Homo sapiens: one gene and its partners. The protein of the gene in region 4 purifies or fractionates together with the protein of the main gene of each other region. This does not show direct contact. Each region holds a gene or a part of one and is shown on either strand. Other genes may lie near its edges. The genes, in order: NCOA6, KMT2C, KDM6A and PAXIP1.

Evidence for each region.
Region 1: the proteins of PAXIP1 (region 4) and NCOA6 purify together in Homo sapiens (co-immunoprecipitation; 6 studies listed by BioGRID and IntAct, with this or other methods). This does not show direct contact.
Region 2: the proteins of PAXIP1 (region 4) and KMT2C purify together in Homo sapiens (affinity purification with mass spectrometry; 4 studies listed by BioGRID and IntAct, with this or other methods). This does not show direct contact.
Region 3: the proteins of PAXIP1 (region 4) and KDM6A purify together in Homo sapiens (affinity purification with mass spectrometry; 6 studies listed by BioGRID and IntAct, with this or other methods). This does not show direct contact.

Annotation. Positions count from the first base shown.
Region 1 is NC_000020.11:34,745,632-34,752,656, forward strand, and holds part of NCOA6 (nuclear receptor coactivator 6), read right to left. Parts: intron 4,889-7,025; coding exon 3,772-4,888; intron 3,766-3,771; exon of another isoform or gene 3,068-3,765; intron 1,298-3,067; coding exon 1,176-1,297; intron 1-1,175. UniProt on the Homo sapiens protein: Nuclear receptor coactivator that directly binds nuclear receptors and stimulates the transcriptional activities in a hormone-dependent fashion. Coactivates expression in an agonist- and AF2-dependent manner.
Region 2 is NC_000007.14:152,432,986-152,440,677, forward strand, and holds the start of KMT2C (histone-lysine N-methyltransferase 2C), read right to left. Parts: upstream 3,019-7,692; 5' UTR 2,802-3,018; coding exon 2,641-2,801; intron 1-2,640. UniProt on the Homo sapiens protein: Histone methyltransferase that catalyzes methyl group transfer from S-adenosyl-L-methionine to the epsilon-amino group of 'Lys-4' of histone H3 (H3K4).
Region 3 is NC_000023.11:45,058,168-45,065,192, forward strand, and holds part of KDM6A (lysine-specific demethylase 6A), read left to right. Parts: intron 1-838; coding exon 839-937; intron 938-1,079; coding exon 1,080-1,299; intron 1,300-1,854; coding exon 1,855-1,989; intron 1,990-2,441; coding exon 2,442-2,597; intron 2,598-3,156; coding exon 3,157-3,252; intron 3,253-4,479; coding exon 4,480-4,581; intron 4,582-5,254; coding exon 5,255-5,650; intron 5,651-7,025. UniProt on the Homo sapiens protein: Histone demethylase that specifically demethylates 'Lys-27' of histone H3, thereby playing a central role in histone code. Demethylates trimethylated and dimethylated but not monomethylated H3 'Lys-27'.
Region 4 is NC_000007.14:154,993,111-155,000,135, reverse strand, and holds part of PAXIP1 (PAX-interacting protein 1), read left to right. Parts: exon of another isoform or gene 1-56; intron 57-1,351; coding exon 1,352-1,486; intron 1,487-6,364; exon of another isoform or gene 6,365-6,366; coding exon 6,367-6,410; intron 6,411-7,025.

The DNA of each region.
Region 1 (7,025 bases), on a different chromosome or scaffold from region 4:
TCGCTCTCATTTTCATGCCAAAAAGAAGTTGAAATAACTAGTGAGGAAGAAACAAAACATACCCTCTGTACACACAGGGGAGAGTGGCCTAAGTGTGAAGGGTTGTGTATCTTCAACCGTGTCATAGGGGAATAAAGTTACAAGTCATTGCTCAGGCCAAGATAACCAGGTATAGAGATATTGTGGCAGCTGGCCTTGGTTCTATAATATCTAGGTTTGAATGAATTAATTTTAGGAGCTTTTCCATCTTTGACATAATTTTTCAACATTTAAAGGATAGTATTATTTTATAATCAGAGAGGATACAACAAAGGGGGCTTCCAATATTGGTCCTATTTATTATAAATTATTAACCTATGTGGTAGATACATGGGTGTCTCTTTTATTCTTTATATCTTCTTTATATTTTAAAGACTCATTAATGAAACTTCTATAAAAAAGATCATCTTGTTTTAAACCCTGGTAGTTCCCTGCTTTGAGAAGCCCCAGGAAGAAACGCTGCAGGAAAGGCAGGCAAGCAGGATTAGAGTGAAATCATCTCTCCATTTAATCTTATCCTGTTCTGATGCCAACTAGAATCTTGACATTGACAAGAATAAAGAGGCACTTCACATTTCATGGTTTTTTTTTTTTTTTTTGAGACAGGGTCCCAGGCTGGAGTGCAGTGGCATGATCATGGCTCACTGCAACTTCGACTTCCTGGGCTCAGGTGATGCTCCCACCTCAGCCTCCTGAGTAGCTGGGACTATAGGTGCGTGTCACCACACCTGGCTAATTTTTAAAAAATTTTTAGTAGAGACAAGGTTTCACCATGTTGCCCAGGCTGGTCTTGAACACTTGCGCTCAAGCGATCTGCTCATCTTGGCCTCCCAAAGTGCTGTGATTACAGGTGGATGAGCCATCATGCCCAACCACATTTCAGTCCGATTTTATGAGGACTTAAAATAACAAAGACAAATTTGAATAGAATGTGTGTGTGTATGTGCCTTCAAAAGTTATATTTGAAATTTTTACTTAATATCAAGGCAAAGCTTCCAAATACCAGACACATTAAATCACTGAAGTAGACTAGTTAGCAGATAAAATAAAATACTATTGTTTCCTTGAAGACATGGAAGCCTTGTAATGCCACATGCACATGTAATAAGTATATAATCTAGCTAACATTTTATCACCTGGTGGCCGGTTTGAAAATTCTGGCAGTTTAGGGCCTGAGTTATCCAAGTTAATTCCTTGTTCTCCAGGCAACGGTGGCTGATCAGCCTCTTCCAGACCAGCTGGGCGAGTATCTGGGGTGCTAAAAAAAAAAAAAAAAAAAAAAGTGACATATTTTAGAATAAGTTGTATAGAAAATACACAAAACTAGCTTAACCCTTCCCCTATTTCTGAAGAACTAAAATGTTTGCATTACCATTATTCATCTCTCTCTAGTCTAGATAAAATATTAAATATTGGCATAAAAATAATCTGGCAATTTCATTAAATGTTAAAATCCATTTAATCTAACAGCACTGTATTTACTCAGAATGCTTTCCACAAATTCCTGGTGCAATAATTTTCATGTAATCACCCATTCCTTAGCTGTTTTAAGACCTGATCATAGGACTATCAATGTTACAAGGTACTGTTCCTGTGAAACCACACTATCTTCAATGTAGCGATCAAATTCAACTAGGGGGTCTGATTGTTTCTTTTTTGTGGATATAACAGTGGGGGCTCAATTCATAACACCTTGCAAAAGGTTGTATAGGTTGGCTGATGGTATTCAGAGAACAAAGAAAGATTGAGACCACCACCACAAAGATTTTGCTGCAGAATGAGAATTTGCAGACATCTCTATTTGCTTTGAGATGCCTTTGCTTTTACCTGGGTGTAGCTTAAAATTTTTAGTAAGGAAGAAAAAAATGAAGAAATTGTAGCTACTAACACCCACATTCTCAAAGAACAAGACTGGTCACGGGCCTCATTTTGTTTGTAATCTCAGTACTAATTGTACTTTTCTTTTCTATCTTTAGTTTCCCTTTGCCCTGATTTTGTTCACCCACTTTTAGGTAGTGTTTTGTCTCATTATACTCTGTACAGTTTCATAAGCCACAAAAATCCACTTTAAAAGCCTCCCAGCAAATGGAAATTTAGAACCTGAAGCAGATCGTCAGCACATCCAGACCTATAACAATTTGCTCCTTGTAAGACTTCTCTCTCACTTTAAATTACAGGCAAGAATTCAGTGGTAACCTTTACTTTCAGAAAATTGTAGAGATAAGAAATCTCAGATATCTGGTCCAGCCCCATCATGTTATGAATGAGAAAACTAAGGCCCAAAAAGGTGTATGAAACAGGCCCAAGATTCCACAGTGAAGTAGTGGTAGAGCTGGAAGCAGGTACTTTTCCTGTAAATCCACTGTCTCCCTTTCCTGGGAGTCCTGATGCTGTGTAAGGTCCCTTTCACAATTTGTAGACCTAAGTAACCAATTTCCCTAAGGGCTGGTGAAGATGGCAAAAAATACACACTAGAGGCAACTGAATAACCTTGCAATTTTACTCCCAGACTACCGAGAGAATAAAATATTTATTAAATAATTATTCCCATAGGTTGATGCTAGTAAAGAATTTAACTGAGAAAGAGCTATCAGAAAAATTAGATAATTAACTTTGAATTCAGGAAAATATAGGTTATCATTAATAATACACCATGATTAGCTTTTAAAGCATAAGATTCAAGAAGAGGCAAGTGAGCATGATATAATACAGTACAAAGAATGTTGTGGGAAGGCTGGGATAAAGGTAGTTGGTTTAATTTTGAATATTTAAGCTGGTTGAAATAAAGTTTCTTGATTCTTTTTCTATAATTCTAACAATTTATTTCAATTAACCTGTTTTACATTCATTAGCCATTATTTCCTCATTTATTATTTTTTTATGATTAAAGGCACAAAATATAGCTCAGTGAATATTCCTTCTGGAAACATTTTATCAAACCCAGAAACACAAATTAATACTTAGCTTCAGGAAATGAAATATAAATTGTTAATTGCCTTTCCTGCTATGATCTTGCAAAATAACTCACCTGGAGAACGTTTACTGAAAGGGTAACTGATTTAAAAGGTCCAATCATCTTAGCGTGGGGTTTTAAGCTTCTAGGGATGATAAAGAGCCTTTAAAGGAAAGGCACCTGTGCAAAAAAACCATTTCTATTTGAGAGACAGCAGTAGTTTTAATTTCCAAAACACATTTGGCCTCTCTGGTTCCCCAATAGCCATCATAAGCCTAAAGTCAGTGCTTTGTGGAGTTGCCATATGGTAGCACTGGTTACTTTTCAGGCTCTGATTGCCAAAACCCCCCGACACTGTAAAATTAAGAGATATACCAGCCAATTGCAACATATGAATCTTGTTTGGATCCTTATTTGAACAAATTGTAAGAAAAAAATTTGAGATAATCAGGGAAGTTTGAACACTGGATATGAGAGTACTAAGGAAGTATTAGTTTTCTAGGTGTGCTAACAATATTGTGCGGGCATATTAAAAAGTGTCCTTATCTTTTAGAGACACACACTGAAATATTTACCCAGCGAATTTGCTTTGAAATACTCAAAAGGGTAATGGAAGAGAGTACAGATGAAGGCAAGACAGACTATGAGTTGATAATTATTGAAGCAGGGGGATTTCATTATACTATTCTAGTTTTATATTCTGTAAAATTTTCCATCAAAAAAGTTATCCACACAGAAAACAAATGAATAAAATTTGAGGCAAAACCATCACAACCTACTTTAGATCTTGCTGACTATTTTTCTTCTTCCGAGGGGGTTTCTTCTTCTTCGGTTTATTTGCGTTGGTATTATTTTGCTTATTGTTTACCCCAAAATGGCCTGCAGATATGTCACTCTGCAATAAGTTGACCAACAATGGGCTCGTTAGCGTGACATCCTTATTGACTGGGAAGCCTGGATTTTGACCACAGGACATCTGATTTCCATTGGGAGCTCCACTGAAAGGTGCATTGAAAGACATCCCATGGCCTGAGAAGTGGTTTCCCGAGGCACTGTTTCCCTGCATGGCCTGCACATGAGGGGGGACCATGTTGGTTTGTTGAATGCTAACATCAGGCATCATCTGAGATAAACTGACATCGTTATTTGCTGTAGTAGCAGGATCACCATGCTGCTGGGCCATGTGTGGGCTGGGCCCTGGTGGCCGCAGGACCTGTCCCTGAATGCCCATAACCTGAGATGGACTGTTGTTCACAGGCCCTTGCTGGGGCAGCATCTGTCCTGACATCTGTCCCGTAAACTGCACCATATTTCCTTGCATGTTTGGAGTTGGTCCCCTCATTATCTGGGCTGGTCCCGGCATGACATTGGACTGGTTCTGAGTGTTAAACTGCTGCTTATTCCCCTGCATTTGATTGGTCATAATCTGCTCTATCATTGGGTTCTGTTGGAGCAAAACCTGCCCCTGAGGCCCCATCATCTGGTTATGTGGCGCCATCATTTGTGGGCCCTGCTGGGAAAGCATCTGCTTGGGTGGGGTCATCCTTTGGGGCGAGGGCCCAAGATTTTGGCTCGGGGGGTTCACCATCATCTGGCCCTGTGGCATAAGCTGGGCCCTTGAAAGGATCATAGGGTTCTGAGGGTTCAAGGTTCCTTGTTGCTGGACCATCTGGCCCTGGGAGGGCACGATTTGCTGGTGCATGCCCATCAGCTGAGATGGTGGGCCCTGCTGGGGCTGGCCTTGCATGTTGCTGAGGTTCACTTGAGGAACCCCAGAAGTACCAGCCTGCTGATTGTTCATGTTGCCATGAATTCCCATGAGGCTGGGCTGCATCATATTTGGCGGCCCGTGGGACACCTGCATCTGGTTTTGAGGAGGACCAGCTCCTTGACCACCTTAAAAAAAAAAAAAGTCACAGTTTCAGAAATAAATATTTTTATCTTATTGGTATTAAGATACTCAAGTTACATTACTCAGAAAGACATCCATCACCCTTATATCCACTGACCAACATAAATATGCTGTTGACATACTTCCTGTGAGTTTTCTAAACTACAAAGATGTGGCTGTGGGATAACTGCTTACATTCCCAATGACCATATAATAGAGAAGGAGAAACAGTTTCTACATTCCCATATGGTATCTTAAAGATTTAACGTTTCAAAGATCAAGAAAGTTTACTTTCTTTCAGATTAAATAATGAGAAAGGCAGCATCTCACTGTTTTAAAATGACTTGTAGTGGCCAGGCTCGGGTGGTTCATGCCTGTAATCCCAGCACTTTGGGAGGCTGAGGCAGGCGGATTGCTTGAGCCTGGGAGGTGGAGGTTGAAGTGAGCCAAGATCATGCCATTGCACTCCAGCCTGGTGACAGAGTGAAACCCCGTCTCAAAAAATTAAATTAAATTAAATTCAAAAAGCACTATGGGCTACTGAAATAACTCTGCTATAAGAATGTGAAGTGTCGGCCGGGCGCGGTGGCTCACGCCTGTAATCCCAGCACTTTGGGAGGCCGAGGCGGGTGGATCACGAGGTCAGGAGATCGAGACCATCCTGGCTAACAAGGTGAAACCCCGTCTCTACTAAAAATACAAAAAATTAGCCGGGCGCGGTGGCAGGCGCCTGTAGTCCCAGCTACTCGGGAGGCTGAGGCAGGAGAATGGCGTGAACCCGGGAAGCGGAGCTTGCAGTGAGCCGAGATTGCGCCACTGCAGTCCGCAGTCCAGCCTGGGCGACAGAGCAAGACTCCGTCTCAAAAAAAAAAAAAAAAAAAAGAATGTGAAGTGTCCTCTTAGGAAAACCTCAACAATCATGAGAAGACATTTAAAAATGCTTCTTGGAAAACTGTAATAATAATGACTCTCAAAAGCTATGTGTGTGATATGTGGATGCTGCACTTCAAAGAAAATAACACCAAGGACAGGTGTCCTCTGCCCTGATGTGGTAAAAAGCAGTTAATCTTGATCTGGAAGCTGAGCCTCTGGTGGGAGCCAACTGACTAGATGACCCATCTGGAAGCTGCAAATAGAGGAATAATAAAACCTCAGTGACCCTCTCCTGCGCAGTCCCTGGTGAATCATGTGGCACATGTTTTAGTCTTCTCAGCTATTTCTAACTTAGACAAAAGTTGCTACCCGCCTTGCTGTAGTGCTTATTTATTTACTGGGTCTTTGGGATTTTCCTATAGCTACTTGCATTATCTCCCCGTTTAACTGAATAACTTTGTAGTTAATTTTGTCCCTTTTATTTTTCACTTTTTTTGTTGTTTTGTTTTTGAGACAGAATCTGGCTCTGGTGCAACCTCGGCTCATTGCAACCTCCACCTCCTGGGTTCAAGTGATTTTCATGCCTCAGCCTCCCCAGTAGCTGAAACTAGAAGCGCACAACAACACACCCGGCTAATTTTTGTATTTTCAGTAGAGACAGGGTTTCAGCATGTTGGTCAGGCTGGTCTCGAACTGCTGACCTCAGGTGATCCACCCGCCTTGGCCTCCCAAAGTGCTGGGATTACAGGCTGAGCCACCGCACTTGGCCTTATTTTTCACTTTTAAATGGGGACTAGAAAATCCCCTACAATGAAGTTATGAAGCCAGTCCATGCTCCAACTATGAAGGCAGGGGGCAAACTACCTTGTTCACACTATCCAGACTTCTCCTGAACTCTAAGGAAGATTTTCTAAACCAGCCTTATAAACTCAAAGTGGAACTCCATGACCATTGTATATGCTTGTATACAATAAATATACTGTGTATATTCATTCAACTGACAATTATTCATTAAGTACCTGATACATAGAAGGCACTTTGGTGCTGAGGTAACATCAATAAACAAGACAGACCAAATCCCTGCATCCTTGGAGCCTACAGTCTAACTGGCAAGAGACACAACTAACAAACAGACAAGTATTTTTTCAGGAAGCAGTAAAAGCTAACAAGAGAAAGTAGGGTGAGAGAAGAGAAAGTAAGAGATAAGAGTAGAGCTACTTTAGATAGGATAAATGGGGAAACCAAAACATGTACACGTGGGCCGGGCAC
Region 2 (7,692 bases), 2.6 Mb from region 4:
AAAATACAAAAAATTAGCTAGGTGCGATGGCGCACACCTGTAATCCCAGCTACTCTGGAGGCTGAGGAAGGAGAATCGCTTGAATACACGAGGCAGAGGTTGCGGTGAGCCGAGATCATACCACTGCACTACAGCCTGGGCTACAGAGCAAGACTTCGTCCAGAAAAAAAAAAAAAAGGCATCTTCTCTACTTAATGTAACTCACTAAGTTAATGAACATCTAAGTAACATTAGCAACTTAAAATATCTCTATGAGATTTAGCAAAGAAGATTAATTTTCATTTCTCAGGTGAATTATTTGCAATTTCACATAATTTCACTGGTTACAAACCTAATTTACACTGGTTACACATAAGTTTCACTTTCAGGGTCTTTACTGTCCAACTACAGGGTCTTTTCTGCATGGATTCTTATACAGTATAGAGATACACAATTCAAAAACCTCTTTGCTTTCCAATTCATATGTTAGTTTCCATTTACATGTTGCTAAAAACAACTGGAGATTCCATTCCCTTCAAAAGACACAATTTCAAAAAAAACGCTCTAAAAAGTTTAGACCCGTCAAATTTACCAGTAGACTTTAATTTCCTATAAAGAAAGCAGTACTAGTTTTCAAATCTAAAAGAAAAAGCTCTCTACAGACTTACATTTGTTCTAAATATTTCCAAAAGTTTTGATTTTTCATAGTTAGATTATACTGTTATTCAGCAGAAATTTTTTATCTTCTCCAAAGGCTGCCTATTTCTTCATGAGATTCAGAATTAAAATAATAAAGTGGCAATACCCTAATCGTCCAGTGCACTCAGGAGCTGCACTAATACAAATGAGCTCATTTCAAAAGTAGGGTGTGTGCGAGTGTGCGCGTGCGTGTGAGTGTGCGCGTGTGCGCGTGCACAAGCACGCCCTTACAGGAGTATGGGGTGTGGGGTGTGACAACATAGATCTAATCTTTCTGGAGTAAGAATTCAAATGCAAATTTAAAACAATACTTGCAAATTAATGTTCAGTAAGAGATGAAGAAATGCTTTGCAAATAGTGAAATGGGAGGCAATCAAGGTAAAACCCCAATATGGCTTGTCCTGAGTTGCTTTAAAGGATGCAAAAAAAAGTGGCTTACATGTCTAAAAATTACTTAAACCTCCACTTCCTTCTACAAATTTCAGTTAATACAGAATAAGGGCATTTTATACTTGCCACTGTATTACAACGCAAGTGGCATAATAAATAAGTCCTAACTTTGTATCACGAACAAGCTAATGTAATAATGTACACACATCCTGTACTTGCTTCCCTCACGATTATCATAGCTAGGTAACAGCTGGCAATAAAATATGGAGGCAAGTTGAAGGCCCTGAATCATTTTCATAGTAAAAGGACAGCGGGGCAAGAAAAGAGCACATTCAAGTCAAGAGCTCAATGGGTTCCCACAACCCAGCTCTGCTATGCCTCAGTTCACGCTACTATTTTTACTACAAATCACCAAACAACAATACTATTACTAAGTGAATGCACCCGAACCAAAGAAACAGCCTATCCATAAACGTGCTGGCTTCCTTCACGTCCCAGCGCACCCTTCCACTCCCGACAGTTCAATGAGAATATCATCTCACGAAATGAGTAAGCACACACGCCATTCTACAACTTCGAGAGACATTCACAGTTCTTCCACGGCACACGCGAGAGCCACAGAAGCCGAGCAGTTCGCTGGCACTAAAACGGTGTCTTAATTTACAAGCAAAGCCGTCAAATAACCGTTCTGTAAGAAGACATTTCTGGTCCTCTAATAAGCTGGGGTCCAGCCCTACTGTACGCTCAAAGGCAGGCGACCCTATTCCCAAGCCCCTTACAGCTAAGACTTACGAGGGAAGCGACATTTACATCTGCACTCTCTCCGAATAAGTGCTCTTGGTATTCTGCCTTACGAGGGGACGCTGGCTACGTCTCCAAAACTTAGGCAGGCCGTTCCCCGAAGCTGGGGGATCCCACAGGACTTGTGCTTTCGGAGCCCGGGAGTGCGGTGCTGGGTGTTGGGGGAGGGGGGAGGAAGAAGTCAAATGGCTTCCTAATATATCATCAAAAGAAGAAAACACAGGTTTGGGACCAGGAAAAGTTCCAGGAGCAAGTCGCTGACAAACAAAAGCTGCACTCGCCCGGCCGCTTTCTTCTCGCCCCCAGCCCGCGCCCCGAGACCACCTGGCCCGGGCGTTTTGACAGCTCCGAGAGTTTCCCGAGCGCCGACGGCTCGGCGGTTCGCCCGGAGTCCGTCCGGGGACTACCTGGGCGCGCTCCGGGCTTGTTTTCTCAATGATCCAGCTAGGCCAAGACGCGGCTACGAGAAATTTCTCCAAAAGAAGAGTCGCGGAGAAGACCCAGTGAAAAGGCCCGACTGAAAAGTAAAGTGTGCGGAGCCGGGCGCCGGCGGGAGCCCGGGCGGGCGGCGCGGAGCGGGGGAGGCCGGGCGCGGGCGGCTACCGAGGGGCGCGGGGCCGGGGCCGGGAGCCGCCACCGCCCGCGGGCCCGCCCCGCCCCCACCCCGCCGGGGGGCGCCGGGGCGCGGAGGCCGCGGGGCGGGCGCCCGGTGACAGCTCCGGCCCGGCGCCGCCGCTGGCTCCCGGCCTGGCTCCCTCGCACTCAACTTACTTCTTTCTGGCTCTCTGGAAAGGGGAAGCGCCATCTTTGCGAGGCCGGCCCCGAGGTCTTTTGTCTGCGGCTGCGGGGCTCGGGGCCGGGGCTCCAGGCTCCTCGGGGGGTGGTGGCGGCGGCTGCGGCTGCTCCACGCTCTTGTCCTCCTCCGACGACATCCTAGTCACCAGGAAAGACACATGGATCCCGGTCCTCCTCCTGGGGGGCTCCCGCCGCCGCGGCCGCCGCCGCCGCCGCTGCTGCTCGGGTTCCTCCTCCCCGGCTCAGCCTCTCGCATTTCCCGCAGCCCCGGGAGCAGCAGCAGGTACCGGGAGAGGCGGCAACATGGAGCGAGCAGGACACGCACTCACACACATCGGCGCGGGCGCGCGCACCTCCGCGCGCAGGGGCCGGGCGGGGGGCGGCGGGCGGGGCGGGCGGTGCGGGGCGGGCGGGGCCGGCGGGTGCGGGCGGGCGGGGCAGCCGGGCGGGCGGGCGGCGTGAGGGGCGCCGGCCCCCGGGGTCTCCGCCCGCGGCCCCTCCCCCGAGCCGCCCGCGGCAGGAGGAGAAAGGGGCCCGGCGCGGGGAGGGCCGGCCGCGGGGCCCGGCGGGGGCGGCGAGGGGGTCGCGCCCCCGGCCGGCCGCCCCTCCCCCGCGCGTCAGGCCCGTCAGGCCCGGGCGGCGGCGGCGGCGAAGTTTTGACAGCTGCTCCAGTGGCGGCGCTGGGCGCCGGGCCGCGGCTCGCTCCTCACACTCGCTCTCTCACACACGCTCGCTCGCTCTCCCGGAGCAGGGGAGGAGGAAGTTTTGCGGGTGTGCTTGGACCCCACACACACGCCGCGCGACCGTGGCCGTCGCGCGAGGCCCGCGCCGGGGATCCCCCGGGGCGACCCGCACCACAGACCTCTCCAACTCGCAGCCGTCGCGCCCACACACCGCCGCCTCGACGGCCCCCGCCCGCTCCCCCACACTCGGCCCCTCGCCCGCCCCCCGCGCGCCGCCGCTGCCACTCACGGGCCTCGCTCCGCGCATGCGCCGCTCCCGCCGCCCGCGGACGCGCCGCCGCCGCTGACCTCACCGCCCCTCCCCCTCCCCCCCGGGTTCCCTCCCCCTGTGACGCGGCGGCCGGGCCCAGCCGCGACTCCGGCTCCGGCTCCGGCTCCGGCTCGGGAGGTAGCCAAGCTGTGGACCCAGAGATCCGGGATCGGGATCGGGGAACTGCGGGCGAGGGCGGGAGGGAGCCGCGGACACACGCCGAGGCGGCCGCGGTCGCCCGGCGCAGCCCGGCGCGAGGAGCAAATGTGCGCCCGCACGGCGAGGGCAGCCCGGGCTTCGCTGGTTCTCGCCGAGGTCTTTCCTCGTAGCGCCCACACTACGGGGAGGAAAAGGAATGGAGTCAACTTCGTTCGAATCCAACGCCAGTTAGTTTCCTTATTATAACGTCATTTTTTTTAATCCAGAAAAGGTTCATAAGGATGTAAGACGAAAAGAACGATGACAGCTCGAGAAATAAAACGGTTAGAGACAAAATAAGCCAATAAAAACCCAACCACTTGATTTTAACGTTCAGTGTGTTGTGATGAAGAGGCAAAAATCGAAGTACTTCTAAGCCACCTCTCATAATATGTAAAAATGGTAAAAAGAAAAATGGGGCTAGAATCCGCCTGAAAAATGCACTTTCTCAAGAAGGACAGTTACAAATATGGGATTCTGGATTTCTCAGGCTAATACCTAACACTTGGACGATGATCTATTCTGTGCTTTCCATTCACTATCGATTAGTTTATGAGAGTGAAAAAATTCTAGATTTGAATGGGGGGAAATAGTAAGACCTATCAACCATTTGTGAAGGATTGGGGTAAACTATCATTTAATAAGCATCTACTTTGGGCCTAGCGTTAAGAGGCACACTCTCATGTTGATTTCTTTTGATCTTCGCAGTGTAGTTTTAGTGTAAGGTAAAAAAAAATAGGCTCCTTTTCCAGCGATGTTTGCTTTCCCTTCTAGTAGCTAGGATGTTAACTTTAAACTGTGTCTTCTACTTGGGCAAAATACACACACTTTGATTCCCAGAGCCTATTCTAAATGAAAGCATAATTTTTTGAAATGGCTGAAATGAGGAATAACGTCAGATAGTCATTTGAATACCTTCAGGGTTTAATCCCTGCTGGCTCTTTCAAATTTACTAAATTTATAACCAAAGGAAATTTGGGATTGAGGAGGAGGCTGGCATGGTAAATGCAAACTAGAAATTAAAAGTGCCTGACGATTACACATAGAAATACAACATATATGTGACTAGTGATAAACATATGATGTGATCTAGTGAAAGTTTACTCAGTACAAATTTGAAAGCACCCTTTCTTTTTTCATTTTCTTCAGCACATTGTACTTTAAATAAAGTGTGCTTTCAAAACTGGATTATTGATCCAAATATTTAGCTGTGTTCCGTACTGAAATTAGAATAGGCACTTCCACGGTGAGTTTCACATGTACAAAATTATACATCAGGATAATTTACTTCCATACGCTTCTCCAGCACTTCTGAGAACTTAAGTGTCAGTGGATACAAATTGCAAGTCACTCCTGCTGGAGAGTTCACAAGAAACAAAGGGTACTAAGAGCAGAAAAGTGAGCCGAGTGAATGGAAGGGTAGAAACAGAGGTTTGTGCAGGGATGCTTCTGGATAGATGATGATGCAGGTAAGTAAACTCAGCCTGAAATCTCCATTCCTTTGGCCACTATGAGCAGGGAGTTGGGATCTGTTTTAAGAGAGCTGATAGCAGTCTCCTTGGCATGAAGTTATCATGAACAGAGCAAATCAAATATAACCCAGGATGCTGAGGAAGGATTCAAGGAATACTTATTCAACATAAATAAAGGTTTTCCAGAGGTTTTTCCGTCTCAGTCATCCAAATTACACAGCTCTGAGACCACAGTAGCAAAAATCTAGGAGGCAGGGAGCTGAGGTCCTTCAAAATTATGAAAGCAAAAAGGCAGGAGCATCTGGAAACAGTACCAAATACAACAGAAAAATATTAGAATGTGTACTTTCTAATAAGTATACATGTTAAATATGGGATTTTAAATTTAGGTAGATGTGTACTAACCTGTTAACCAATCATCTGCAAAGGGGTGAATTACAAGGGACTTTTACTGTCTAAAATATTTGAATATTTCAAAGCACATGTAGTAATCATCTAATCATATATATATATATATATATGTAGTTTTTAATGGGGAGGGAATGAGCATTGTTATCTTTGACAAAGAAAAACCAACATCTCAGAAAAATATAGGCAAGGAAGATTCTCAAAGCATCTAGCAAACAAGTGACAGTGAATAAAAATTCATAGTCCAATATTCATTCTTACTAATTGAAGGCCTATAACATGTGATTGTCTTTATTTAGAATGCACAGGTTCACTACTAAATGTTGTCTCTCTTGTTTTCCCATAAATTCCTCAGGGCTTTTTAGGAACCAAACTTTCACTGTTATAGAAGGACCACTGAAAGCTTAAATTTTAGATCTTAGAATTTTTGTGTTCATATTGTTATTATTAAAGTTGCACTGTAGGCTGGGCACTGTGGCTCATGCCTGTAATCCTAGCACTTTGGAAGGCCAAGGCGGGTGGATCACTTGAGCTCAGGAGTTCGAGACCAGCCTGGGCAACATAGTGAGACCTCCGTCTCTACAAAAAAATACCAAAGAAAATTAACCAGGCCTGGCTGGGCGCGGTGGCTCACACCTGTAATCCCAGCACTTTGGGAGGCCAAGGCAGGCGGATCATGAGGTCAGGAGATCGAGACCATTCTGGCTAACAAGGTGAAACCCTGTCTCTACTAAAAAAGCAAAAAATTAGCCGGGCGTGCTGGCAGGCACCTGTAGTCCCAGCTACTCGGGAGGCTGAGGCAGGAGAATGGCGTGTACCCGGGAGACGGAGCTTGCAGTGAGCTGAGATCGCGCCACTGCACTCCAGCCTGGGTGACGGAGTGAGACTCCGTCTCAAAAAAAAAAAAAAGAAAAAAAAATTAACCAGGCCTGGTGGCACATGCTTGTAGTCCCAGCTACTTGGGAGGCCGAAGTGGGAGACAGTCTTGCTCTGTCACCTAGGCTAGAGTGCAGTGATGCGATCTCGGCTCACAGCAACCTCCACCTCAAATTTGCCGGGCACGGTGGCTCATGCCTGTAGTCCCAGCACTTTGGGAGGCCAAGGCAGGCAGATCACTTGAGGTCAGGAGTTCGAGACCAGCCTGGCCAACATGGTGAATCCCCATCTCTACTAAAAATACAAAAATTAGCCTGGCATGGTGACGTGCGCCTGTAATCCCCGCTATTCTGGAGGCTGAGACAGGAGAATTGTTTGAACCCAGGAGGCGGAGGTTGCAGTGAGCCGAGATCGCGCCATTGCACTCTAGCCTGGGCAACAAGAGCGAAACTCTGCCTCAAAAAAAAAAAAATTCATATTGCTATATAAGTTATTTCAGTAAAGTATATCATGTGCCTGTTTGGTGGAAAAGTTAAAGGAAGAAACCAGGAAGGAAACAAGCAGAACAGTCATCTTCAAAAGTAATTTGTGTTTAAGAATGTGAGGCTTAAGTAGATGTTTTGCAGTACATTTTATATAGATACTAATCTTGCCCTCTAGGGGTCTATACTTTAAGCCTGGCAGTAGTAGTTAACAAGGATAAACACAAAAGGACAAGTAAGCAACTAGAAAATAAACATGGAGGCCGGGCATGGTGGCTCACGCCTGTAATCTCAGCACTTTGGGAGGCCGCGGTGGGAGGATCACGAGGTCAGGAGTTCGAGACCAGCCTGGCCAATATGGTGAAACCCTGTCTCTGTTAAAAATATAAAAACTAGCTAGGCGTGGTGGTGCACACCTGTAGTCCCAGCTACTCAGGAGGCTCAGGCAGCAGAATCCCTTGAACCTAGGAGGCGGAGGGTGCAGTGAGCTGAGATTGTTCCAGTGCACTCCAGCCTGGGCAATAGAGGCAGACACCACCCCCCCCCAAAAAAAAAGAGAAAGAAAAGAAACATGGAAAAACATACAAATAGAAAGATTA
Region 3 (7,025 bases), on a different chromosome or scaffold from region 4:
TACTGGCCATTTGATATGACATCATGACATTTTTAATGTATCTTCAGTCCTCAACTAAATTGTAAGCTTCATGAAAATAGGGACTGGGTTTTTGTTTTTTTTCTTTTTCCTTTAGTGCCAAGAATAAGAAGATAATTTCAGTATTTATAATTTCAACTGTTATCTGTGTATCCATCATGTCCATCGTGTATATTCACATTAAGAAAATTACAGTCCTTGAATCGTTAATCTTACCTTGCTAACTTTACTAGTCATAAAATATTATACTTTATATTATTTTTACTTTTTACTTTATACTATTTTTGATACTTAGTTTGAGATTAACTATGTCTTACATGTGCATTTTTTTTATGAATTAAAGAATTATTGCCCTCAGTGTTGTTACTTGGGAAAGGAAAATTGAAATCTGATACAGCAAATCTTACCAACGTATATAGTGTTTTTGTTTTTAACTCTGTATTTTGACCATATAGGAAACTAGAGGTCAAGCTGTATAAGAAGAGTGGAAGAGTGCCGTGTGTGTGTGTGTGCACATGTGCATGCAGCTCTCAGTATTATAATATTGAAGTGATATGTCCCCTAATCATTTTAATAGAGTTCATTAATGCAGCATGCTTTTTAGCACCTATAAGACAGACTATAATATGGTTTGTTGGAGGGCAAATTATAATATTCATTATAGTTAACAAGTATATACATACATACACATAAATATATTAACTTATTAGGGTTTTAAAAAAATTTGCTGTGATATATAGTCCATCCTTTCAGCCGATTAATTTGTTTCAGTATTAATGGAATTCTCTTGATTTTTTTTTTTTTTCCCTTCCCTTCTCAGGTGCTATTCAAGTATTGGGAAAGTTCAGGATGCCTTTATATCTTACAGGCAGTCTATTGATAAATCAGAAGCAAGTGCAGATACATGGTGTTCAATAGGGTAAGCCTTTGTATAAAAATAGTAGTAATTTAATTGATATACAAAGATGGTTGCATCACATATAGTACTTCATAGTTTAAATCATTATAAAACCAAGCAGTTCTTCTGAGTTGACTTATTTTTTCTTAATTTCTCTTTCCAGTGTGCTATATCAGCAGCAAAATCAGCCCATGGATGCTTTACAGGCCTATATTTGTGCTGTACAATTGGACCATGGCCATGCTGCAGCCTGGATGGACCTAGGCACTCTCTATGAATCCTGCAACCAGCCTCAGGATGCCATTAAATGCTACTTAAATGCAACTAGAAGCAAAAGTTGTAGTAATACCTCTGCACTTGCAGCACGAATTAAGTATTTACAGGTAAAATTTTTAAATGGCAGTTTTTTAAAGCCACATATTTCCCCAGAACACTCAGGCAGAAGGAGGGTGGCTGGAAAGTTTGTCTAGTTGTGTTTTGATGTCTATAATCTGTTTCCATATTTTGTAAACATACCATAGCTTGTAATATTATTTTACTTTTCATTTTAAGTAAGATATGCAGTATTTTTAAAGATGCTCTTTTGCACATTTACTCTGTTGATGCATATTAATTTACATAATTTTTTTCTATGTACTGTCTACATTTTTAAGTTGTCATAGCATTTTATAGAAAACACAAACAGTCTTTCACTCTTGCTTGGAGTTTCTTGAGAAGACAGCTATGAGAACTCTGAAAACAGAGCTCAGCTTTGTTTTGATTCTCACAAAGGTTTATATTCCGGTTACCCTGTTTATACTTAGTGTCTTCTAAAGCCCCAAATTTAGAATCTATTTTCTTTTAAAAACAATTAGCTATAGCATTTAGGAAGATTTAGTGGACTTGCTCTTACTCAAGTAGGCTTGTGTTAAATTTGCTTTTTACATAATTTTTCCTAGGCTCAGTTGTGTAACCTTCCACAAGGTAGTCTACAGAATAAAACTAAATTACTTCCTAGTATTGAGGAGGCGTGGAGCCTACCAATTCCCGCAGAGCTTACCTCCAGGCAGGGTGCCATGAACACAGCACAGCAGGTGAGAAGTTGGGTTATGTTCTGCAGGTGCCCAGCTTTAAGGGTTCTTTTCAATTCTCTAGTGGTCAAGCTTAATTTACTAAGCACAGGAGGCTTTTAGTAATGAAAAGCCTTTTGATTTAATTGCAAAGGGAATCTAGATCAAAATAAAATTCCCTCTAATATGGGAAGAGATTTTGGGGTACCAACTTAGAACCTTTGTGCATTTTCATGATTTTGAAGGAGATTTCTTAAAATAATGCTACAGTGGTTTGTTTAATTTTTAAGGCAAGTTTTTCAAAGGAAGGTACACATTATTCCATTGATGAATCATTTAATTTTGATTTTCAATCATTGCAATCAGCGATGTCCACATAGCTTTGAAAAGTATGCAGCTTGTAAAGTTTTATAATTTGAAGGAATGAATTAAGAATATATAGAACCCTATTTTTGTCTTCCTTCTGTGATTCTTAGGCATGTAAACCTCATCATCCAAATACTGAACCTGTATTAGGCCTCAGTCAAACACCAATTTCACAGCAATCCTTGCCACTACACATGATTCCTTCTAGCCAAGTAGATGACCTGTCCAGTCCTGCCAAGAGGAAAAGAACATCTAGTCCAACAAAGGTATATGTTTTAGAGAAATAGAAAATCCCAGTCAAAAAAGAAGTTTCAGCTGCCCTGAAATTGTGCAGTTTGAACATTTCCTGTCCTTTATTTTAAATTTGTGGACATCAAAGAGTGAAAGGTTTGAGTTTTTCCATCCCAAACCCTTAGTATCATATTAAATATAGAAAGTAGGGATAAATTTGCATTCATCAAATCATTTTATTCATCTCCCTGCCGTTAAGATCCCAGCACACTTTTCATCATCACTTTTTACTGACATTGAAATAAATTTAATGTTGGATCTAGTGGACAGTGTGGTGTTTAGGCTAGCCGTTTGGGCCATAGTTTGAGGGTGGGCCTTTTTGGGTGGCTTATTAAATAGTCAGTAATTTTTAAATGTATGATTTCTAAGTTTAATATGCATGTAAAATTATTTTTTAAAGAATTTAATGTTATAACATCTTTTTAACATGTAAATATTCCAATTCATAGTCATTTGGCCTCCTCTAACCATTATTATTAACTGTGGATTTAACCAAATATTCTTTAATTTTTTTTTTAAATCGATTTTCCTCAGAATACTTCTGACAATTGGAGTGGTGGACATGCTGTGTCACATCCTCCAGTACAGCAACAAGCTCATTCATGGTGTTTGACACCACAGAAATTACAGGTATGTAAGATGTTTTTGACAAATTGTTTATTAAAAAGGAGTAGAGGTAGCAAACAAGTATTAATTTTTTTTTTTTTTTTTTTTTTTTTTGAGATAGAGTCTTGCTCTGTCACCCAGGCTGGAGTATAGTGGCACGCTCTTGGCTCACTGCAACCTCCGCGTCCTGTGTTAAAGTTATTCTTGTGCCTCAGCCTCCAGAGTAGCTGGGATTACAGGCACGCACCATCACACCCCGCTAATTTTTATATTTTTGGTAGAGACTGGGTTTCGCCATGTTGGCCAGACTGGTCTTGCACTCCTGACCTCAAGTGATCCACCTACCTCAGCCTCCCAAAGTGCTGAGATTACAGGTGTGAGCCACTGCACCCAGCCCTAAGTATTAATTCTTATAAGTTAAATGGCAGTACATTCAATTAAAATGCACAAAAGTAAAATGAGCCTGCATTTACCAGAATAATGAAGAGCATTCATTCTTGTTTTTAATTTCTTTTTTTTTTTTTAAACAGGACATGGTTTACACTACATAAAGTATAAATATAGGGTATATAGGGTAAAGTTTTCTTCTAACTCTGGCCCCTACCCACTCAAAATGTGGCTGGTATTACTAATTTCCTATCTATCATTCCAGAGGTATGTTATGTATGTACAAGCAAATATACATCCCCCCCTTTCTCACATGTATTATTATTTTTCTTCTTTTTTACACAAATGATAGGATTCTTATTTGCTGTTAACAACATATTTTACAGACTTCTGCATGTCAATATGTGAAGAGCTTCCTTGTTCTTTTATGGTTACATCATATTTCTTTATATAGATGTAACACCTTTATTTAAGCAGATCAGTAATTTTGGACATTCAGGTTGTCTTCAGACTTTGCTTATTCCAGACAGTGCTGCTTTTAGCATACTTGTCAATATATTTTTAAGCTTCAAGAGTTTTCTCTGTGAATACCTAAGAATACTGTATGGATGAGTAAAATTTCATGCCCATCTATTACAAAGAACTCATAGTAAATCTTGTTCAGATGAATGCTTAGTTCATTCTTATATTTCTCAAGCTTATTAAAGGACTTCATCTTGGAGTGTGTGACTGTTGGTCAGAAGACAGTGTGTTTGACCAGATAGTGGTTCTGAGTTTAGTCATTTCAGGGAAAGGTTGCTTAGAATAATGATCTTATTTCCTAAATATATCTTTGACTATATTCTCTTTTTGTTCTTCTTCTAGCATTTGGAACAGCTCCGCGCAAATAGAAATAATTTAAATCCAGCACAGAAACTGATGCTGGAACAGCTGGAAAGTCAGTTTGTCTTAATGCAACAACACCAAGTGTGTATAGCATATTTTTCCCTGAAATTTGTTAGCATTTTGAGTATTTTTATTGACTCTAATGTCATTTTAGAGCATGTTTATGTTCATTTTTACTTTCTACTGGTATTTGACAGAATTTAGTAATCTCTGTATTTTAAAATACTGGTAATTGACGGAGATTTTTAGACAAAAGCAACTATAATTTTGAAGAAGATACTTTGTATTTTATTTATTTACATGATATTTCACATGTATTCTAAGGGTTTGTTTACATTATTTAGTACTGAGGCAAGGTTTTTAGGGCTTATTTAGTTTACAGGATCTGGCATATATGTAACAGAATGAAATTTTGAGATGTCCCCTCTTTTGTGATTGAGAGAAGGACCTATAAGTTCGGGGTCGTTTTCTATAATTTTCAGCTGCTTCCTTTTGTCATTACTAATGGGATTTTTTTTTTTTGAAACCGACTTTTGCTTTTTCAAGGAAGTTTATTTTAAAATGAACAAATACAATTTCTTGTTTTTAAAGTATGTATTTCTCAACTTAGAGAAATTAAGCATTTGGGTAAAATCACACATTCCCTAATTATACATCTTCATATTCATCTGGGGATTCATAGAGAATCCCCTATAGATTCTCTTCCCTATAGATTACACAACCAGCATTTACTTTTCCTTTGTTTTTTTGACAGATGAGACCAACAGGAGTTGCACAGGTACGATCTACTGGAATTCCTAATGGGCCAACAGCTGACTCATCACTGCCTACAAACTCAGTCTCTGGCCAGCAGCCACAGCTTGCTCTGACCAGAGTGCCTAGCGTCTCTCAGCCTGGAGTCCGTCCTGCCTGCCCTGGGCAGCCTTTGGCCAATGGACCCTTTTCTGCAGGCCATGTTCCCTGTAGCACATCAAGAACGCTGGGAAGTACAGACACTATTTTGATAGGCAATAATCATATAACAGGAAGTGGAAGTAATGGAAACGTGCCTTACCTGCAGCGAAACGCACTCACTCTACCTCATAACCGCACAAACCTGACCAGCAGCGCAGAGGAGCCGTGGAAAAACCAACTATCTAACTCCACTCAGGTAATAGGAGGACTAGCTTCCTTGTTGGCTTTTCACATAAATGTTTTTACTGGGTTTTATACACTTTGAGAGAAGAAGAGAGAAGTGTTTGGGGAACTGGTTTTATAAGAATTTTGTGGCACTACAATGTTACTACATTGTGATTCATTATGTACATACATGAGTATATCTTTGTTCCCTTTGTACAGTCTCTACCGACATAGATAACTTAGCAAATTTACAAAGGAAGAAAATAGATCATATAAATCACCCAAAATGCACCATTAATTTACAGTGGCATCATAAGCACATTTATGTAATATTACTTAGTTCATTTCTGCATAAACTGCCTACTTAAGATCAGGCACTAAACTAGGTGTTAGGTATTTGCTTTAGTGGGAGAAAAAGACCAGTGAATAAGTATTTACCATAATGACTGTGAAGTGTGACTTTGGTGGGAAAGTTCTATCAGAGTACCTACGAGAGCACATAACCAAGATGTCAGAGTCTTCCAGAAGCTAGAGTTTAGGGGAGGAGAGGGCTGGTGAAGTGTGCCTAGAAGATAGGTTATGAAGAGGGGAGGGTGAAATAAGAGGCTGAGGGAGAGGCCAAATTTATCTTGAAGGCAAAGTTGATCCACTAAAGTTTTTGAAACAGAGTAATGAATTGCATGCACATTATTTTTGTCAAGGAAATGGGTCATAATGTATTCAACGTTAGCACATTCGTTAGACATTTAATTTCTAAGTTTTTACTTCTGAATGTTTATGTGCATAGTATTTCCCATATTTTGGATTGTTTCCATGATATGGGTACTCGCTGAGGTGAAACTGAAGGGCCAAAGAGTAAGTTTTAAGAAAATGCTCTCAATATGTATAGCCAAATTGCTTGTACTTTTATTAATTTACTATGAGAAATATTTGACTTAAAAAGAGAAATATTTGGCTGATTGTCGGTTAGTCTTATATTATTGATAAAACTGAAATAAGTTCTTTTTCTAAGATTTTTAAGTTTATTCTTGAATTAATATCCTTGGTGGGACCCTGATCTAAAGTGATTAGTACTTTATTCATTCTTAGAGAAATACTGAGTACCTACTAGGTTCATTTCCTACTCAAGGCTCTGGGAATACATCAATAAAGAAAATATACTGAGATGTCTCTACTTGGTGTAGGTAAATAGATAGTAAACAAATAAGCAATACATATATAACATTAGATGATGGTTGTGATTAGTGCTATGGAAAAAAGCACTAATAGAAAGGGAACAGCAGAATACTAGAGATTGGTGGTAGGAGAGTTGCAGTTATAAATCAGAAGGGCAGGGAAGGCTTCTCTGAAAGATAGCATTTGGATGAGAGTTACAGGAGTGAGCCTTGAAGCTATTTGTGATAAGA
Region 4 (7,025 bases):
AGTGAAAGAAGAAAGCTCTCTGCTGCAGAGAGGGGACCTGGAAGAGCGTTGCCCTGGTGGGTCACTTGAGCTTTGTGGGCACCATGTCACTTTGACAGTTGGTGTGCACTGTCAGCTTAGACACTGCCCACCTCTTCTGAAGCACTTGACTGTCGACTGTTCCTTAACCCTCACTTCCTTGGCTTCTGTTGACGCTCCTCTCCTGTGATACTGCACTTCCCTACCTGTCCCTGAAGTATCAGTTGCTGTGTCTGCTCTCTAGCTCCCCTCCCATTCTGCACTGCGACCACCTTCACGCTCATGGCTGTGGCTCCCATCTATGTAACAATGCTGATGACTTTCTGTCAGGGAGATCCACATCTTTTCCTAGCTGCAACTGGATGCCTCTTGCCAGATATTAACACGACCCCCAAAGAATGGCATGCCCAAACTAAAACACGTCCTTGTGTCCCCACCTGCCAGCCTTCTGATGTGTTCCTCAGTGAGTGGTACTCACCACCATTTCAGTCTGGACTTTGCTCTTTTGCTTATACCCCTTCCAGACACCAAGGCTTGCCGATTCTCTCACATCTTCCTCCTTTCTGCCCATCAGGACATCACTTTAGTGGATGCCTCTTTCACCTGGGTTATTGCACTTGTTTCTTAACAGGTCTCTTGTCTTTAGTCATCTAGCCAACCAAACACAGCCAGCCCACCCAATCCTTTCTTTTCACATGGACTGTCATCTTTGTATGAAATCTGTGCTACTTTTCCTGTGTGAAATCCTTCAGTGGCCCTGCATATACCCCAGAATGAAGCACAGACTTTTTTGCATAGTGTGTAAGAAAGCCCATTTACGGTCTGCTCTGTATTCACCTGTTCAGTGCCTTCAACACTGCTCCCTCTTCCTCGATGTATGGATTTTTGCCTAACACCCAGACGTTTATGAGGGTTCTGCTCACATATCTTGTCTTCCAGAATCTTTCCCTAATTATGAAACTCCCCATGTCCCAGTCTTTAAGTTGGAAGCTCAGGAGCACCATGTGCGTGGCCCCACCGCAGCAGTGGTTGTGCTGTCTCCTGGTTTGTCCAGCCCATCTGTCTTGAGGACAGACCATGTCCACTACTGGACTCACAATAGCCTCCATTACTTGGTCATTGACTTGGTCAGTGAATCAAGATTTGCTGCTTTTGATTGTCCCCGAAAGTTTCATTGGCATATTATTCAGAGTAAAAGGCTGTTAGTTTTTATGTGGGGAATATGGTGTGTTTTTATTAAAAAGTACTATTATGCCCAATAATTATTTCTGTAATTCAAGAGTACAGTACAGTATTGCCCATTTTAATTTGTGTGGATTTTCTTGTTTTTTAGGTTATTCAGCTTCTCAAGGCTGGAAAAGCGAAGGAAGTTTCCTACAATGCACTAGCCTCACACATAATCTCAGAGGATGGGGACAATCCAGAGGTGGGAGAAGCTCGGGAAGTCTTTGACTTACCTGTTGTAAAGGTCAGTAGTAAACATAATTTGTTTTATATCTTTTCCTCAGTATCTTGCAAGCAGTACATTGAAGTTTCACTATAGCTCTTTTCAGGGTTTTTGCTAAAGTCCTGTTTTATTTTATTTTTATTTTTTATTTATTTATTTTTTTGAGCTGGAATCTCGCTCTGTTGCCCAGGCTGGAGTGCAATGGCACGATCTCAGCTCACTGCAACCTCCGCCTCCCGGGTTCAAGTGATTCTCATGCCTCAGCCTCCTGAGTAGCTGGGATTACAAGTGCCTGCCACCACGCCTGGCTAATTTTTGTATTCTAGTAGAGACAGGGTTTCAACATGTTGGGCCAGGCTTGTCTTGAATTCCTGACCTCAGGTGATCCGCCTGCCTCAGCCTCCCAAAGTGCTGGGGTTACAGGCATGAGCCACCGTGCTGGCCCTAAAGTCCTGTTTTGTGTGGAAAGTTGCCAGATAACTGTGGACATCTTTAACGTCTGAGTAACTTCCCTTAGCTTCAGGTCCTTTCAGCTAAACCAAGGTAGAGCATGGCTTCTGTATGTCGTAAGTAATCCTAGGCCATCCTTTATGCCTGCTGCAGAACTCGTCCCACGTTACCACTGCCTGGAAGTTTTCTGAGCCAGGGAAACCTGTCATGGGAAACAGATCTGATGCCTTGAATCAGATGGGTGTTTGAATTATTGTAAGAGTGTATTTCATTCCAAAAGCAGGCTAAGGCCTGTCGGGAGGTAACTCTAGGACAGGGTTACTTTCCATCCCGACTGTGGCAAGGTGTTCTGAATTTCAGTTAGCTGAAGGGCGTCCCCCATTAACTATGTTGTGGAACTCCTTTCTGACAAGAGTCACAATGGCCTTTAGTCACATTGTCTACCCACTGGTCGTCTGGGGTGTATCCAACTTGACCTATGGGTAATTTATTGCAGAGAATGAGGGATTCAGCTAGTGGAAGAATTGTTCAGATTTTGTTTATCCACCTACTGTATTATGTTATGGCTGATAAGTTAGTTGACTTCTGTTAAAATGTGTGTTTTAAAAATTTGTTAAATTTTGTAATTCCAATGCTTCGATTTTATTTCAGATCTTCCCTATGAAGTATTTGTTTTAAAATAGTTCTATACCACTACCATTTTTTCCCTCTTCATGTTATTAAATGCTTTGCCTTAAAAAGAAATCAGTATGAAAGTTACTGTGGTTTAACAATAACAGTGTTAGGAATTAAGAAAGATTGCCAGCCTGGTGCAGTGGGACTCACCTGTAGTCCCAGCTACTTAGGAGGCTGAGGTGGAAGGATTGTTTGAGGCCAGGAGTTCAAGGCTGCCATGCACTGTGATCACACCTGTGAATAGCTACTGTACTCCAGTCTGGGTAACACAGTGAGACACCATCTCTTAAACAAAAAGAAAAAGGGAAAAAAATAGAAAGATTGCCATTAAGTCAAATTGCGGGGCCAGAGAAGCCACCTGGCTGCTGGGAAGTGGTGACCTCCCTGGTACCCAGGGTCGGAAACTGCCTTGGATGAGGTCCTGAGCTGGGGCACCCTCTTCTTTGGAACATGTTTTTGTCTCTGGCTTGCTTCCTTGTACTGCTTTAGGGACAGTATCTCTGTCTCTTCCTTCTCCTTCCTACAAACTTTCTTTCTCTCAGACAATAGCCTGGAGCTATTGTCTCAGTAAAGCGGCTTTGCATATCTTATGCAGATGTTATGTGAAAGGGTGATCTTTCTAACACATCCTTGGGGCCTAGGTGATTGTTGCCAGGCCAACTACCAGAAGTAGTTCTTAAACCTGCCTGACCCCAAACCACCTTTTTGTAATAAGTACTTTGTAGCACTCCCCTTATTATCCAGAAATGAATCGATACGTAAGCCAACCTTTAAAATATGTATATATAAATTGCCCAAACTGAAATGTGAAGGCGAAATAAAAGGCAAGTAAATAATAAATATATATTTCAATGTGTAAACACTTGGGCATGGCTGCTGCTATATGTAGAGTCACTGCCGGTAGCTGCTGCAATTACAGATTGATATCATACCCCACAAGTGGGGTCGCCGCTGTGAGGTGACATTTCAGAATGGTGATCAATTCCTGAGCTAAACAAAGCAGTCTTCCTTCATTTTACACAGTATTCATATTCCTGGGAAAGTCAGTATGTAAGGCTAAGTAGAAATACCCATTACTTATACAATTAGCAGTTAGCATCTAGGATTATCACCATTTTGCCAAGGTAGTTTACTGTATTCAAACCCAACTTTTTCCCCCTCTGGCTATAGTATTTTAAAATGAGTGACAGACATATTTCATCTGTACCCAGTAGCATTCCAGCCTGCTTGTAATTTTTGACAGCACCTGTATTGTCCAGGGACTATTGTGTTACATTACAAGGTGGTAGAGTACTTCGGAGCTGACTCAACAGTTTGCCTTCACTCTAAGATATTTCAAGTAGATCCTGATATTCTTAGTTTGAACCTTATGGGCCTGTCTTATTTTGGATCCTGCTGCTAATAGTTGAGTCTGAATTCATATGACTGAAGGCTGAGACCTGGTTCCCTAGAGGCATATCCCTTGGCCTTTACCTTGATAGGAAGTTTGACAATGCATTTTAAAAATAAGGCATCTTTATACACAGTGACAGTTTATCTATCATTTACATATTTGAATCTTATAAATGTTTAAAACTTGCTTCTTTGGGCACCAAAACTTTTAAAATTATTTTTTAAATTGAGATATTTTTCTCAGTGGCCTTTGGGCATCATTGGAAATGTTAATTTTGCTGACTTGTAGTGGGCTTATTTTATTTAATTTTTTTTCAGACAGAATCTCCCAGGCTGGAGTGCAATGGTGTGATCTCGACTCACTGCACCCTCTGCCTCAGGGTTCAAGCGATTCTCCTCTCTCAGCCTCCCTAGTAGCTGGGACTACAGGCGTGTGCCACCACGCCCGGCTAACTTTTGTGTTTTTAGTAGAGACGGGGTTTCACCATGTTGGCCAGGCTGGTCTCGAACCTGTCACCTCAAGTGATCCGCCCGCCTTGGCCTCCCAAAGTGCTGAGATTACAGGCATGAGCCATCGCGATCAGCCAGCTTATTTTTATATATTGTTCTTTGCCTTTAGGATAAATAGTTCCTTATCACTTTGCTTTTGTAGTTCTCCATTTCTGCTTTGTACTGTGGCCTACATCCTAATTTTGCATTATTTTATCTAAACTTATCTGAAGTAGGGCCTCAGTGATTCTACTGTGCTTGGATGGGACTTTATGATAGCCAGCAGTCTTTAAACTGGGATACCCTACCCAAGCTCCCTGGGGGGAGATATTCAGCGTGTATGCTGTGTGGATGGTTGTAAGGTGATAGATAACATTTCCAGACTGGCCCTTCCTAAAGCTGCCTGAGAACACACCTGTGGTCACAGTGGCCCCTCCCACTTTACACAGGAAGAATCAGACCTTCACCCATCCTAATCTTGTAGTGCATTGCCCCAGGCTCTGAAAATTCTCGTGGACAGCAGACAAAAGGACAATTAGAAAGACTGGTTTTAGGGACTGTTCCCTTAGTGCTCAGTCATGGCATCATGAGGAGAGAGGGGTTTCTGGGTGTTGCTGTTGAAAGGAGAGCTTGGTCTACATGAAGGTGTTCTGAATTCAGAAGTGTCAAGGCCAATACCGATTCCTGATGCTGGCCCATTTTTTTAAATTTAACTGGAATTTTTCTAGGACTATCAAAAAATGTGAAGATATGTTGGATAAGGCACATAGATCGAAAAATTAAGTGCCTTCTTTCAGATTTCAGATAACTAATCCAGTAACTTAGTTAAAACCTTTGGTAAATGTCAAATCATAATGAAGTAATTATCCCAGGCACAGCTGCCAATCTTTATTTTATTTTATAAAATGTTTAATATTCCTCTTCTCACAGAAAATATACTTATTTAGAGTTATGCTGAAAAATTTTAGATGTCATCTAAAAAATGATAAGGGGGGCATTTCATTGTCTGAAATTTATTTAAGGTGTACATGACAAAAATAGCTTGAAGATCATTAGCTTGGAATATGACTTGCAGGAGAGCAAAGACTGCGTTTCTCGTTTTCATTGTTACATCCCCAGCGCCTTGCACCATCTCTGCATAAAATAGATTCTCAATAAATATTTGATGAATGAATTGATGGGTGGGTAGTGAGTATATATGTCTGTTTCAGTTGGCTGAAGTTTCTGGAAGTCAGCTGCCTTCCAGAATGTAGTAATGGGGGCATTACTACATTTTGATAGTAATTTTCTGAAGTAGAGCTATCAGGAGAATGATTTGTATAATTATAAAAATTAAACATAGAAACAAGATAATTTTTCAAAAATATAAATTACCCAGAAAGGTAGTAATTAATCTGTTTTATAATTAATCTCAGTTTTTAGAATTTATAAAAATATTTTCAGGCTTACAAACATTGTATCTGCTTGACTTCACTAAAACAAACAAACACCTCATGAATTTAGACTTGACTGAATTTGGGATTCAAGAAGGGAGCGTATGAGAGGCTGACTATGCCCTGGATGAGGTGTCGGCGGTGGTGGGGCAGGATGGGTGGCAGTTCCCCTGTCCTAAATGTGGGGGTCAGCAGTAATAAGTGTGTAAACCTGGAACTTAAATGTTTATACATAATTTTAAAAAAATATGGTAGTGCTTCATTCTGTAATTGGATTTTTCATCTTGGGTATTAGTAACTAATCTTTGACTATAATATTTCTATTTGAATATTCATACTTGTAATCTGGATGTTTTAAAATAGGTTGTAACAGAGACTTTTAATTTCTAAGAACAACACTAGTAAAATAATATGCCACTTGTAAATTGAGAATACTTTTTGATTTAATCTTTTCTTTTTCAGCCTTCTTGGGTGATTCTGTCCGTTCAGTGTGGAACTCTTCTGCCGTATCCTTTTTTTTGAGTGGGGGAGGAGGGAAAGGGTAACTCTGGGTTTAAGACTGAAAGAAATGATAGTTAATGGAGTGAAAAGTGGATTCATTCGTTAGGACAGATTGTTTTGTCTACATCTTATATTCCTACTATTTTCCATCCTGTTTCAAATTTTATGTACCTGATCCTTGTTATTACTCATGTTAAAAGGGGGCTCAGCTGTGACAAGTAACTCTAGGCCGGGAACTGGAGGCAGGAGCTCCGGTTCTCTTCAGCTTTTGTGGTGCTAGCTAGATGAGGGATATTTCTAAAATTCTAAGTCTATGTGAATCAAATCATGAATTGTTTGAAGAGTAAGTTGGGGAAGAGAACATGAGAATAAAATTTATAACATGCATTGTTAATCCTTTTAATTGCATTGGGTAGAACGATTATTAATTCAGTGCACCTGTGCTGTGGGTTGAGTACTGAAAATAGAGGGGTGAAGAAGACCATTTCTGCCCTCAGGGAGCTTCCTTGCTTGCATTGTTCGTTCATGGAGCATTCATAGATGTGCCCTTGCCCTGGCACTGTGTCAGGAGTCAGAAATGAGGCGTTCTACAGGCCTCCTGTTTACTCTTCTAGGCCTGG